3 separate regions of the Homo sapiens genome follow, and all the other regions are linked to region 1. The links come from fine-mapping of genetic effects on gene expression. A gene starts in region 1. Each other region holds a variant in brackets. All regions are shown on one strand. Distances are from middle to middle.

What was found. PIP is the estimated chance that this variant, and not a neighbour inherited with it, causes the effect. A credible set is the group of variants that fine-mapping cannot tell apart.
Region 2: its variant is the best candidate, but not a certain one, in a credible set for the expression of RNF10 in sigmoid colon (GTEx, PIP 0.63).
Region 3: its variant is the best candidate, but not a certain one, in a credible set for the expression of RNF10 in monocytes (Fairfax 2014, PIP 0.51).

The regions. Positions count from the first base shown.
Region 1 is chr12:120,532,618-120,536,860 of GRCh38, forward strand. It overlaps RNF10 (ring finger protein 10), which reads left to right and starts at 1,739. Exons shown (of 17, transcript NM_014868.5): 1 at 1,739-2,351. The coding sequence starts at 2,195. It overlaps LOC128071547, which reads left to right and starts at 2,080. Exons shown (of 1, transcript NM_001414895.1): 1 at 2,080-2,340. The coding sequence starts at 2,080. The coding sequence ends at 2,340. RefSeq lists silencers at 1,637-1,790, 1,889-1,958.
Region 2 is chr12:120,660,978-120,665,220 of GRCh38, forward strand. CABP1 (calcium binding protein 1) reads left to right here. Exons shown (of 6, transcript NM_001033677.2): 5 at 94-241. Among named protein-coding and RNA genes, the nearest start is that of CABP1, 22 kb to the left of the region's middle. The variant T/C (reference allele first, on the strand shown) is at 2,020.
Region 3 is chr12:120,565,562-120,569,804 of GRCh38, forward strand. RNF10 (ring finger protein 10) reads left to right here. Exons shown (of 17, transcript NM_014868.5): 13 at 1,264-1,419. Among named protein-coding and RNA genes, the nearest start is that of POP5, 14 kb to the right of the region's middle. The variant C/CA (reference allele first, on the strand shown) is at 1,774.

The DNA of each region.
Region 1 (4,243 bases):
CTCAAGTGATCATCCCTCCTCAGCCTCCTGAGTAGCTGGGACTACAGGCACACTTAGTCTAAAATTTAGTTATTGAGAAGATTAAATGTGATAATGTTAACAGCTGTTAAATACAATTTATAGGAGCCCATTGTTTTGCACTGAGCTTCAGCACAGTAGACCAAACCAAAACAGAGTTACTCAAGGTGAATTTCTACCCAACCACGCCTAAACGAAATTGTTTATCTGACCTTCTGAGAAATCATCAAATCCCCAAACTGGTCAGTTTTACCCCACATAAGGAAGTCCATTCTGCTTAAACCTTTACAAGAAAAGTAATTTTGAAATGACTAATCTGCTTTTTGTTCTCTGTTTCTACTTTTTAAAAAAAAGTTTAGACAGGGTCTCCCTCTCTGTCACTCATACTGGAGTGCACTGGCACGATCGTATCTCACTGCAACCTCCAACTGCTGGGCTCAGGTGATCCTCCCACCTCAGTTTCCTGAGTAGCTAGAACTACAGGTGTGCAGCCACAGCCACTATGCTTGGCTAATTTTTTTTTCTTTCTCTCTTTTAAATTAAAGTTAGTTTTATTCAAACTATTTTATTCAGAGCCCAGCTAATTTTTGTATTTTTAATAGGGTCGGGATTTTGCTATGTTGGCCAGGCTGGTCTTGAACTCCTGGCCTCAAGTGATCTGCCCCCTCCTCAGACTCCCAAAGGGCTGGAATTACAGGTGTGAGCCACCACGCCCGGCTGCCCAACTAATTTTTTAAAAAATATTTTTATTCTTTAGAGACAGGGGTCTCGCTATATTCCCCAGGCTGGTCTGGAACTCCTGGCCTCCAAGGATCCTTCCACCTCTGCCTCCCAAAGTGTTGGGATTACACGCATGAAACACTGCTTATGGCCTGTTTCCGCCTCTGTCTCCTGGGTAATGGGGACCACAGGTGCGCACCGCCACGCCAGGCTAAAGAAATAAAGTGATGTACTGTATGAAGAAGTGCCGTAAAGTGATATTAAATGTAAGGTATTGTCATTATTAACGTTATTATTATTATTCCTAATATGAGATAGACTAAAGGCCATAAATCAATTGGTATTAACGCTAGAATAAGAACCATAAATTGGCCGGGCGCGGTGGCTCACGTCTGTAATCCCAGCACTTTGGGAGGCCGAGGTGGGCAGATCACGAGGTCAGGAGATCAAGACCATCCTGGCTAACACGGTGAAACCGTGTCTCTACTAAAAATACAGAAAATTAGCCGGGCGTGGTGGCGGGCGCCTGTGGTCCCAGCTACTCGGGAGGCTGAGGCAGGAGAATGGCGTGAACCCGGGAGGCGGAGCTTGCAGTCAGCCCAGATCGCGCCACTGCACTCTAGCCTGGGCGACAGAGCGACTCCGCCTCAAAAAAAAAAAAAAAGAACCATAAATCAAACGAGTCTATAAAGGAGTTCCACAGGTATTCCAATGTTTGGCTACATTATTATCAGTGTATATTATTATTGTTACTGTATTTTTAGTGTACTAAGTGAAAAACCTGGACTTGGAGCAACTGCAAGTCCCATTATTTTGAATGCCCTCACAGTGGGGTTGGGGCGGAGGTGGGGGAGGAAATAAAAAAAACAAAACCAAAACAAACAAACAAACAAAAACCAAAAAACAAACCACGAGACCCGGATGTAGGCAAAAACTACATTTCCCAGAATACCTCACCCCCTCTCCACTATATATACAGTCCATCCGGGTTCTTTGAGATGCTGTTTGGCGACTCGTCGCCATTCCCGGAGCAGGTCGGCCTCGGCCCAGGGGCGAGTATCCGTTGCTGTGTCGGAGACACTAGTCCCCGACACCGAGACAGCCAGCCCTCTCCCCTGCCTCGCGGCGGGAGAGCGTGTCCGGCCGGCCGGCCGGCGGGGCTCGCGCAACCTCCCTCGCCTCCCCTTCCCCCGCAGCCTCCGCCCCGCCAGGCCCGGCCCGGACTCCCGAGCCCCGGCCTCCTCGTCCTCGGTCGCCGCTGCCGCCGGGCTTAACAGCCCCGTCCGCCGCTTCTCTTCCTAGTTTGAGAAGCCAAGGAAGGAAACAGGGAAAAATGTCGCCATGAAGGCCGAGAACCGCTGCCGCCGCCGACCCCCGCCGGCCCTGAACGCCATGAGCCTGGGTCCCCGCCGCGCCCGCTCCGCTCCGACTGCCGTCGCCGCCGAGGCCCCCGTTGATGCCGCTGAGCTCCCCCAACGCCGCCGCCACCGCCTCCGACATGGACAAGAACAGCGGCTCCAACAGCTCCTCCGCCTCTTCGGGCAGCAGCAAAGGGCAACAGCCGCCCCGCTCCGCCTCGGCGGGGCCAGCCGGCGAGTCTAAACCCAAGAGCGGTAAGGACGGGCCTGCGGCAGTGGGCGGGGGCGACTGCCCCTGCTGCTGGGGAGAGTCGTTGCTCTCATCGGCTGGGTTACTCGGGGACAGGCTCCACTTTCTTTTATAGCTCCTACCTGCCCTTTTCCATGGCTCTCATTTGCAGTTACATTAATGAGCGCTGTGCTGCGTGGTTTACGTGGATCATTTACATTAATACTCAAAACTGCTCGATTAAGCAGGTGCTGTTCTTATCGCCATTTTGCATATGATGAGAAAGGGTAAGGTCACCCAGCTAGTATTTGGCTCACAGCAGGCCTTAAGACTTGGTTTGTGTGACTCATCAGTCCACGCTCCTAAAACCACTAAGTTGTTCTACCCTTTAATGTTGAATTAACATTGGATAGTGTTCAAGTTTAGATGGGTGGGTGAGGGCCCAAGGACCTTTCAAACTCAGATCTCTTATTTAATAACCTGGTCCCAGATCCATTCCTCTGTCGAAGAGGAAGTCATCCTTCAGTGGCTATTCATTGTGGGGTTAAGAGCGCAGACTATGAATTCAGTCTTTTTGGGTCCCAGTTTGCCAGACCTTGAGTGAGTGCCCCGAGTTTACTTACTTGTAAAGGTAGGTGGAGGTAATATAATTAAATAAACTTAAAAAACTAATTAAAAACAAAACAAATGAACTAAGGTCTTAGGATATCTGGCGTCTATTTTGCGCCAAATACACATAATGTCTATTGTTGTGTGTTGGACTATAGGATTGTCCTTTAACAGGGAAGGTTTTATTTCTGTAATCAAGTCTGTCAATATTATGACCATGTTGATAATAGCTACCTTTAATTGAGGGCTTACCATGTGCCAAGTACTAGGTGAAGTTTTTACCTCTGTTTTCACTGTGCCAGTCACTGACTTGTCTACCAGGGTGAAATTGTTCATATTTAAAGAAGGAATAAACTGAGCAGGTAGGATGTTAGGAGTTGGCAGAGGCTAGAGTCCCGGTGTTCTTCATTTTATTTCGAAGTTTGTACTAATCTCTGCTCTCTTTTGTATTTCAGTCACATTAGCAGTAATAGGAAGGTGTTTTCAGCGACAGTGGGGATGTTGTGGCAGAGAGGGAAATATTTGAAGTCCCTAAATGTGGAGGTCCAGTTTAAAACTTGTCAAGATTAAAAAAACTGTTTAGAGTGAGACCGGGCGCGGTGGCTCATGCCTGTAATCCGAACACTTTGGGAGGCTGAGGTGGGAGGATAGCTTGAGCCCAGGAGTTTCACACCAGCTTGGGCAAGATAGTAAGACCCTCGTCTCCATAAGAAAAAAAAAAAATTAGCCGAGTGTGGTGGCACACACCTGTAACCCTACCTACTTGGAAGGGTAAGGTGGGAGGATCGCTTAAGCTCAAGGAAGTTGAGGCTGCGGTGAGCTATATCACGATACTGCATACCATCCAGCCTGGGTAACAGAGACCCCCATCTCTAAACAGTAAAAAGAAAACTAAGGCTGACTTAAAACAAACAAAAAAAACAGAAAATTGTAAGGTCTGCTAACTCGCTCAGAGTTCACCTGCTGGATATGGCAAACTTGTTTACCTGGTGTGAGACCATTGGAGTATGGGTTCTCGGGCCGTGTCAGGAAATGGCATGTATGCAGACTGATTTTGCAGTTCTGCACATGCGTAGCTTTGCCATAGATCCCTCAAAAGATAGAAGGTAACCAGTCCTTTTGGTCAGTGTTGGAACTGGTTTAGAGTGGTCTGTTCAAAGCAATTGATAAGTAAGTTTATTTTTGTACTCTATTCCCAGATGTATGTTAAGGATTTGGTTCTCCAACTGTGAATTCTCAACTAATTTTTCTGGGGCTCCTCTTTAAGCCACTAACATACATTCATTAGTCAGTTGCAATAAATGCCTTA
Region 2 (4,243 bases), 130 kb after region 1:
GGCAATGACACTGGAGAAGGAGCTCAACTTTGGGATCTGCTGCTGCCAATCGCCATGCTGGGGCGACCTCTCCTTCCTTCCTGCCTTCTCTAGTTTGACACCAATGGTGATGGGGAAATAAGCACCAGTGAGCTGCGAGAGGCTATGAGGAAGCTCCTGGGTCATCAGGTGGGACACCGAGACATAGAGGAAATTATCCGAGATGTGGACCTCAATGGGGATGGACGAGTGGACTTTGAAGGTAGGTGGGGCTTGAAAGTGGGAGAGAAGCAAGCCAGCAGTGGCCATCCATGGAGCCCTCCAATTGTGTATCCATCATGCAACCATCAATCCGCCCTAATTTTCCAACCCCCAGCCCTTTCATCCTCTTATCCCTCCGTCCATGCCCCCGTCTAATCCATCTCCCATCCCTTCCCCATGCATCTATTCATGCATCTGTCCATCCATCTATCCATCCTCTACCTTTCCATTCATCTGTCCATTTATCCATCCATTCATCTACCTATCTATCCATCTGTCCACCATCCATCCATCCATCCATTTATCTACCCATCTATCCATCCATCCATCCTCTACCTATCCATCCATCTGTCCATTTATCCATTCATCCATTCATCTACCTATCTATCTATCTGTCCATCATCCATCCATCCATTTATCCATCCATCCATCCGTCCATCCATTCGTCTACATATCTATCCATCCATCCATCCATCCATCCACCTATCCATCCATCTGTCCATCCATTCATCTACCTATTCATCTATCTGTCCATCTTTCCATATCTATCTCTCCATTTTTCATCTGTTTATCTCCTTATCTGTCCAGATGCCTATTTATCCATTCCTCCATCTCTAAGCAATCATTCCTATAGCAATTTATCCATGCATTTATCTGTCCATTCGTGCATCTATTCATTCTTCTCTACATTCACCCATGAATCTATCTATGTATTCATCTACTCATATAGATCTCTCTATGTGTTCACACTTCTATACTTCCATTCACACATTCATGTCTCTTCGTCTGCATATACTTCTACCCATACTTGCATTGATCTATCCATCTATCTGTTCAGTCATTTCCTCATCTATATCCATCTACTCATCCATTCACCCATCCCTGTGTCCATCTGCACCCATCCTTCTCTATCCATTTATCTGTCTACCCACGCATGCATCCATCCACGGTAGGTGTTTTCTGAACATTACATTCCTCAACTGGACACTCAGGCTCCCTAAGATCTGACCACAGCTCACCTCCCCAGCCACAACTCAACAGTCCTTCATTCACACTCCACCAAAATACTTGTGATCAGTGAAGCTGCTAGGGTCCCTCTTGAATACACTGATCTTTTTGCCAGGAGGGCTTTTTTGTTGTTGTTTGTTTGTTTGTTTGTTTGAGACAGAGTCTCACTCTGTTGCCCAGGCTGGAGTGTGGTGGCAGGATCTTGGCTCACTGCAAACTGCGCCTCCCAGATTCAAGTGATTCTCCTGCCTCAGCTTCCCAAGTAGCTGGGATTACAGGCGCCCACCACCATGCCCGGCTAATTTTTGTATTTTCAGTTGAGACGGGGTTTCACCATGTTGACCAGGCTAGTCTTGAACTCCTGACCTCAAGTGATCCACCCGCCTCGGCCTCCCAAAGTGCTGGGATTACAGGCGTGAGCCACTGTGCCTGGCCACCAGGAGGGCTTTTATCCTGTTCTTTTTTTTTTTTTTTTTGAGACAAAGTCTCGCTCTTGTACTCCAGGCTGGAGTGCAATGGCACGATCTCAGCTCACTGCAACCTCTGCCTCCTGGATTCAAGCGATTCTCCTGCCTCAGCCTCCCGAATAGCTGGGATTACAGGCGCCTACCACCACGTCCAGCTAGTTTTTGTATTTTCAGTAGAGATGGGGTTTCACTATGTTGGCCAGGCTGGTCTGGAACTCCTGAACTCAGGTGATCCACCCGCCTTGGCCTCCCAAAGTGCTGGGATTATAGGTGTGAGCCACTGCATCTGGCCTATCCTGTTTTT[T/C]ACTTGGGCTAAGTTCTGTTAGCCCAAGGGACATTCTTCATGACTCGACAGTGGGACTCCTTCTTCTAGCACCCTTCCCTGGTTCCTCAAACTGAACTTCCTCTTTTCTGGGTTTTCACAGCACGTCAGGCTCACCTGTTCTTCACACTGTCCCCTAACTGCTGGTTAGAGTTGTCTTCCCAGTTGACTCTGAACTTTGAAAGAAGAACCCTATTTTCTTAATCACTGCATTTCTTGCATAACACAGCTAGTGCTCAGTGAAAGGTTATTTATTTATTTATTTATTTATTTATTTTAAGACAGGGTCTTGCTCTGTCGCCCAGGCTGGAGTGCAGTGGCGTAATCTCGGCTCACTGCAACCTCCGCCTCCCGGGTTCAAGTGATTCTTGTGGCTCAGCCTCCCGAGTAGCTGGGACTATAGGGGTGCACCACCATGCCTGGCTAATTTTTTGTATTTTTAGTAGAGACAGGGTTTCACCATGTTGGCCAGGCTGGTCTCGAACTCCTGGCCTCAAGTGATCCACCCGCCTTAGCCTCCCAAAGTGCTGGGATTACAGTCGTGAGCCACCGCGCCCAGCCTCAAAGACTTTCTTTTTAAAGAATCAATAGTAATCATAATAGTTATAATTTACTGTACACTTATGTGCAGTCATTGTACTAAGTAGCTTTACACATATTCTTACATTTAATTCTCAGAATGACTCTATGGATTGCATTATTATAACCTCATGTTACAGATGAGGAAACTGAGGCTCAGAGAAGTAATATAACTAGCTCAAGATTGCCTGCCTACTAAGAGGCAGAGCTGGGGCACAGCCCCAGGCCTGAAATCACAGCAGAATGCAGTCTTGTGCATGACGCCATGTGAGGCACTACGGGATACAGGGAAAGGGTAAAATGTTGACTCTGCACACCAGGAACTTGCATTCTGAGCAGAAAGACAAGATAAGCATGTGCCAGAGACCGTGAGTGTCCAGAACACAAAGGCTGGGAGGTTTTCTCTCAGGAGCAGTTGGCCTTCAAGGCCAGGGAGCGTGGATAGTTGGAGAGAAGGCTTTGTTATCACCAGATCTGGAAATCTCAGGTCTCCCTGTATCCAGGTAGCGCCCACCACAGATGACAGCCTTGCTCTTGAAAGCCTGGCATCCCCCATTCATCCTACGAGGATGCATTGTACATCTGCTGTGTGCTAAGATCTGGTCTCTGCCTCGAAGAGCTCAAAACCAGCAAGAAAACCAGAGAAAACAATAGCATAATCCATGTGTGCTGGGGGAAGCACAGGGGGCTGCTATAGAGGGGGCGCCTGTGCCAAGTTGCAGGGAGGGATTAGGGAAGACTTCCTGGAGGAGGTTATAAATAATTAGAGCCCCCCAAAATGGGAAGAGCCACCAGGTGAGAGGGAAGGGCAGGTATTTACCCAAATGAGTTGAAAACCTATGTCCACACAAATCTGTACATAGATGCTTATAGCAGCTTTATTCATAATTGTCCAAACTTGGAAACAACCAAGGTGTCCTTTCAGTAAGTGATGGATAAATAAACGGGGGCACATCCAGACAATGGGATATTGCTCAGTGCTAAAAAGAGATGAGCTAGGCCAGGCGCTGTGGCTCATGCCTGTAATCCCAGCACTATGGTAGGCCGAGGTGGGCAGATCACTTGATGTCAGGAGTTTGAGACCAGCCTGATCAACATGGTGAAACCCTGTCTCTATTAAAAATACAAAAAAAATTAGCTGGGTGTGGTGGCGCACACCTGTAATCCCAGCACTTGGGAGGCTGAGACACAGAATCGCTTGAACCCGGGAGGCGGAGGTTGTAGTGAGCTGAGATGGTACTGCTGCACTCCAGCCTGGGCAACAGAGCAAGACTCTGTCTCAAAAAGAAAAAAAAAAAAGAGAGAGAGAGAGATGAGCTATCTAGTCATGAAAAGACATGGTGAAGAGGGGACACACATGCATATTACTAAGTGAAAAGCCAATCTGAAAACACTGCATACCCTATGATTTCATCTATATGACATTCTGGAAAAGGCAAAACTATGGAGACAGTAAAAAGATCAGTGGGTGCAAGGGGTTGGGGGGAGGGAGGGATGAATAGGCAGAGAAGAGAAGATTTTTAGGGCAGTGAAACTATTCTGTATGAGGCCAGGTACAGTGGCACATGCCTGTAATCCTAGTATTTTGGGAGGCTGAGGCAGGAGGATCACTTGAGGTCAGGAGTTC
Region 3 (4,243 bases), 33 kb after region 1:
CTGCTGTACGTCGTTGTATAGAACTCTGTGTCTGGGACCTGGGAGCCAGACCTTAGCCACTTGTTTTCTTCAACTTTTAAATGTGAATCATGAGAGCACCTCCTTAATAGGCTTGCTTGCAAATATAATGAGTTAATATGGGTCAAAGTGCCTAGCACATAGTAAGGATTAAGAGGAAATTCAGCCTTGGTAATAGTGGGTGATATACACCTGTTCCAGAGATGGGAATTGGGGCTTCGCTAAGAATGCTGGGGGCCATCGTTCCCCATGCTCTCTGGATCACTGACCTTACCTCTGACTCTTTATTAAAGGGACCAGCTATACACAGCAAGTCTGCCAGGTGGGTCTGATAAGATGGAAATTTTGATAGACTAGGAAATGCAGGAAGTTGGATTTAAGAGATCTTTCGTAGCAGTAAGCACAGCCTTTTGATCTGGTTCTCCAAAATAAGTTTCATTGAATCCAGGGGATTAGTGTGACCTGAGGTCCCATTATCCACTAGAACACAAGGAACTGAGTCCTTGGCCCAGAAAAGGACTTCGGTGTTTTGACTCCATATGGCATGGAAACATACATTTTATATCTCAAGTGGGACAAGTGTATACTTGGGGTCCCAACACCGTGTAGGTGTTTGGCACATGTCCTGAACTTTGAGAAAACTGATATTTCAGGAATAGGATTTTTTGTTTTCACCTTTTTATTATGGAAATATCAAGACAAGTAGAACAATGTAATTAACCTGCATGTTTGTTACCCAGCCTCAATTATGAATAGTTAGAACAAGGTTAACTATATTAAAGACATTATAGAAGGACAGTTATTGTAAATTTGGGTTTTAGCTTTTGTCTGCATCCTCTAGACCTTTGGGGGTACGCATGTGTGATGTCCTCAACTGTTGGAAACTATTTGAAAAATTCAGGCCAGGTGTGGTGGCTCACGTCTATAATCCCAACACTTTGGGAGGCCAAGGTGGGCAGATCACTTGAGCTCAGGAGTTCAAGACCAGGCTGGACAACATGGTGAAACCTCATCTCTTTAAAAATTCAAAAAATTAGCTAGGTGTGGTGGCACGTGCCTGTGGTCCCGGCTACTCGGGAGGCTGAGGTGGGAGGATCGCTTGAGCCTGGGAGGCAGAGGATGCAGTGAACAGAGATCGTACCACTACACTCCAGCCTGGGTGACAGAGTGAGACCCCATCTCAAAAAAAAAAAAAAAAAATTGAATTCTGTAAATGGGTTTACAAGGGTTATCTTTCCTTTGCAGACCCAGAAGTCCACATTCCCCTCGAGAATCTACAGCAGTTTCCTGCCTTCAATTCTTATACCTGCTCCTCTGATTCTGCTTTGGGTCCCACCAGCACCGAGGGCCATGGGGCCCTCTCCATTTCTCCTCTCAGCAGAAGTCCAGGTTCCCATGCAGGTAAACAGGTGAAATTTAATGAATTCACCCATCAGTTAGACCTTATGCAAAGCTTTGGTGTCTGAGTTTACAACCCCGGCCCACTCAGCATGGTGTGGACTTCAGGGGCATAACCTTACTTTGGTAGTCCTGAGGTACATCAAATTCTTTTATTCATCTTTCCCACTTGCTATACTGACTGCTTTACCCTGCCAGCTTCTAAGCACCTCAAGGAGCTCTTTAGGCAGGATAGTTGAAAATGGAGTCTTCCCTTTGACCCACCTATTTTTGTTTCTAGTTTTTGTTTGAGATACTCCCCTGTATGCCTAAACATCTTTGTACATGTCTCTTTATTGTAGCATCGTTTTAATAGCT[C/CA]AAAAAAAAAAAACAGTTTAGAAAGCCTACCAATAAGAAAATGACTAAATTATAGTATTTATACTGTAAAATGTTTCACACCAGAAGGCCGGGCGTGGTGGCTTATGCCTGTAATCCCAGCACTTTGGGAGGCCAAGGCGGGTGGATCACGAGGTCAGGAATTCAAGACCAGCCTGACCAACACAGTGAAACCCTATCTCTACTGAAAATACAAAAATTAGCAGGGCATGGTGGCAGGCGCCTGTAGTCCCAGCTACTTGGGAGGCTGAGGCAACAGAATTGCTTGAACCTGGGAGGCGGAGGTCTCAGTGAGACAAGGTTGCGTCACTGCATTCCAGCCTGGGCGACAGAGCGAGACTTTGTCTCAAAAAAAAAAAAAAAAAATCACACCTGTTAAAGAAGGGAATGTAATTCTTCTATTCACGTACTAATGGGAAGATAAAAGTAATTTGTAGAACAAGAATAAATGTTCGTGGGTTTTAAAAAAACACCACCACCACCACAAAACTAAAGCATTTCATTATGGGTGTGTGTGTGTGTGTGTGTGTATGTATATATATATATGTAAATGTATAGAAAAACTTCTGTTAGAAGGCAGGGGAGGAAATAAAAAAATATTAAATGTATAGAAAAGAATTGAAGGCCAGGCACGGTGGCTCACACCTGTAATCTCAGCACTTTGGGAGGCCAAGGTGGGCAGATTCCCTTGAGCTCAGGAGTTCAAGACCAACCAAATTTTGTCTCTACAAAAAATACGAAATTTAGCCAGGTGTGGTAGTGTGTACCTGTAGTCCCAGCTACTTGGGAGGCTGAGGTGGGGAGATGGCTTGAGCCTAGGAGGCAAAGGTTGCAGTGAGCCCAGATTGGGCCACTGCACTCTAGCCTGGGCAACACAGCCAGACCCTCTCAAAAAAAAAAAGAAAAATACTGAGACAGATGTGTTCCAAATTGGTAGTAGTGTTACATTCTAAGGAATGAGACTGGATTGAAATGTTCAAATGGGCCTTTAGCCTTCAAAAAGTTTGTCTTATATATAAAGAATGTTTAAAGTGTTATGAAATTAAACATTTATTAAAGAGTTACTATAATTTCAGAGAACTATCTTTTGTGATCTTCATCTGCCTGGCACATGGTTTATTAATTTCTTTTTTTTTTTTTTGAGATGGAGTCTAGCTCTGTCACCCAGGCTGGAGTGCACTGGTGCAATCTCAGCTAACTGCAACCTCTGCCTCCCGGGTTCAAGCGATTCTTCTGCCTCAGCCTCATGAGTAGCTGGGATTACAGGTGTGCGTCACCATGCCTGGCTAATTTTTGTATTTTTAATAGAGACAGGGTCTCTCCATGTTGGCCAGGCTGGTCTCGAACTCCTGGCCTCAAGTGTTCTGTCTGCCTCAACCTCCCAAAGTGCTGGGATTGCAGGTGGGAGCTACTGTGCCCAGCCTGTTTGTTTTTAAGAGATAGGGTCTTGCTCAGTGCTGTGATGCATTCATTAGCTCACTGCAGTCTTGAACTCCTGGGCTCAAGTGATCCTCCTGCCTGAGCCTCCCAGAGTGCTGGGATTCCAGGTGTGAGCCACTGTACCTGGCCAAGAAAGATACTTTTTGATGCTTACGTCTGATTTCTCAGGCATTCTTGTTTTGTTTTGTTTTGTTTTAGATGGAGTTTCGCTCTTGTTGCCCAGGCTGGAGTGCAATAGTGCAATCTCAGCTTACTGCAACCTCTGCCTCCTGGGTTCAAGCGATTCTCCTGCCTCAGCCTCCAAGTAGTTTGGATTACAGGCATATGCCACCATGCCTGGCTAATTTTGTATTTTTAGTAGAGACAGGGTTTCTCCATGTTGGTCAGGCTAGTCTCAAACTCCTGACCTCAGGTGATCCGCCAGCTGACCTCAGGTAATCCACCTGCCTTGGCCTCCCAAAGTCCTGGGATTACAGGCATGAGCCACTGTGCCTGGCCTCTGTCGGGCATTCTTAACAAAGTGTCCATCATTGGAATATTTAAAACTTGTGGTGACCATTTTGTTCATATGCATATCATTTTGCAGATTAGGAACCTGTGGCTGAGGCAGGTACTTAGTGGCAAGAACTGGGATTAGAACCTGGTTCTTGAGGACTGCACTACTGTGACGCTCTTCTGCTTAACTGAAAAAGGAGCATACGAAGGACTGTGGCAGATCATTAAATACATTATTTGTGATATGCATCTTTTTTTTTTTGAGACAGGGTCTCGCTCTGTCGCCCAAACTGGAGTGCAGTGGCACAAGGCACAATCTCGGCTCACTGCAACCTCTGCGTCCCAGGTTGAAGCAATTCTTGTGCCTCAGCCTCCCGAGTAGCTGGGATTACAGGCAGCACCACCATACCCTGCTAATTTTTGTATTTTTAGTAGAGATGGGGTTTCGCCATGTTGGCCAGGTTGGTCTCAAACTCATGGCTTCAAGTGATCCGCCTGCCTCGGCCTCCCAGTGTGC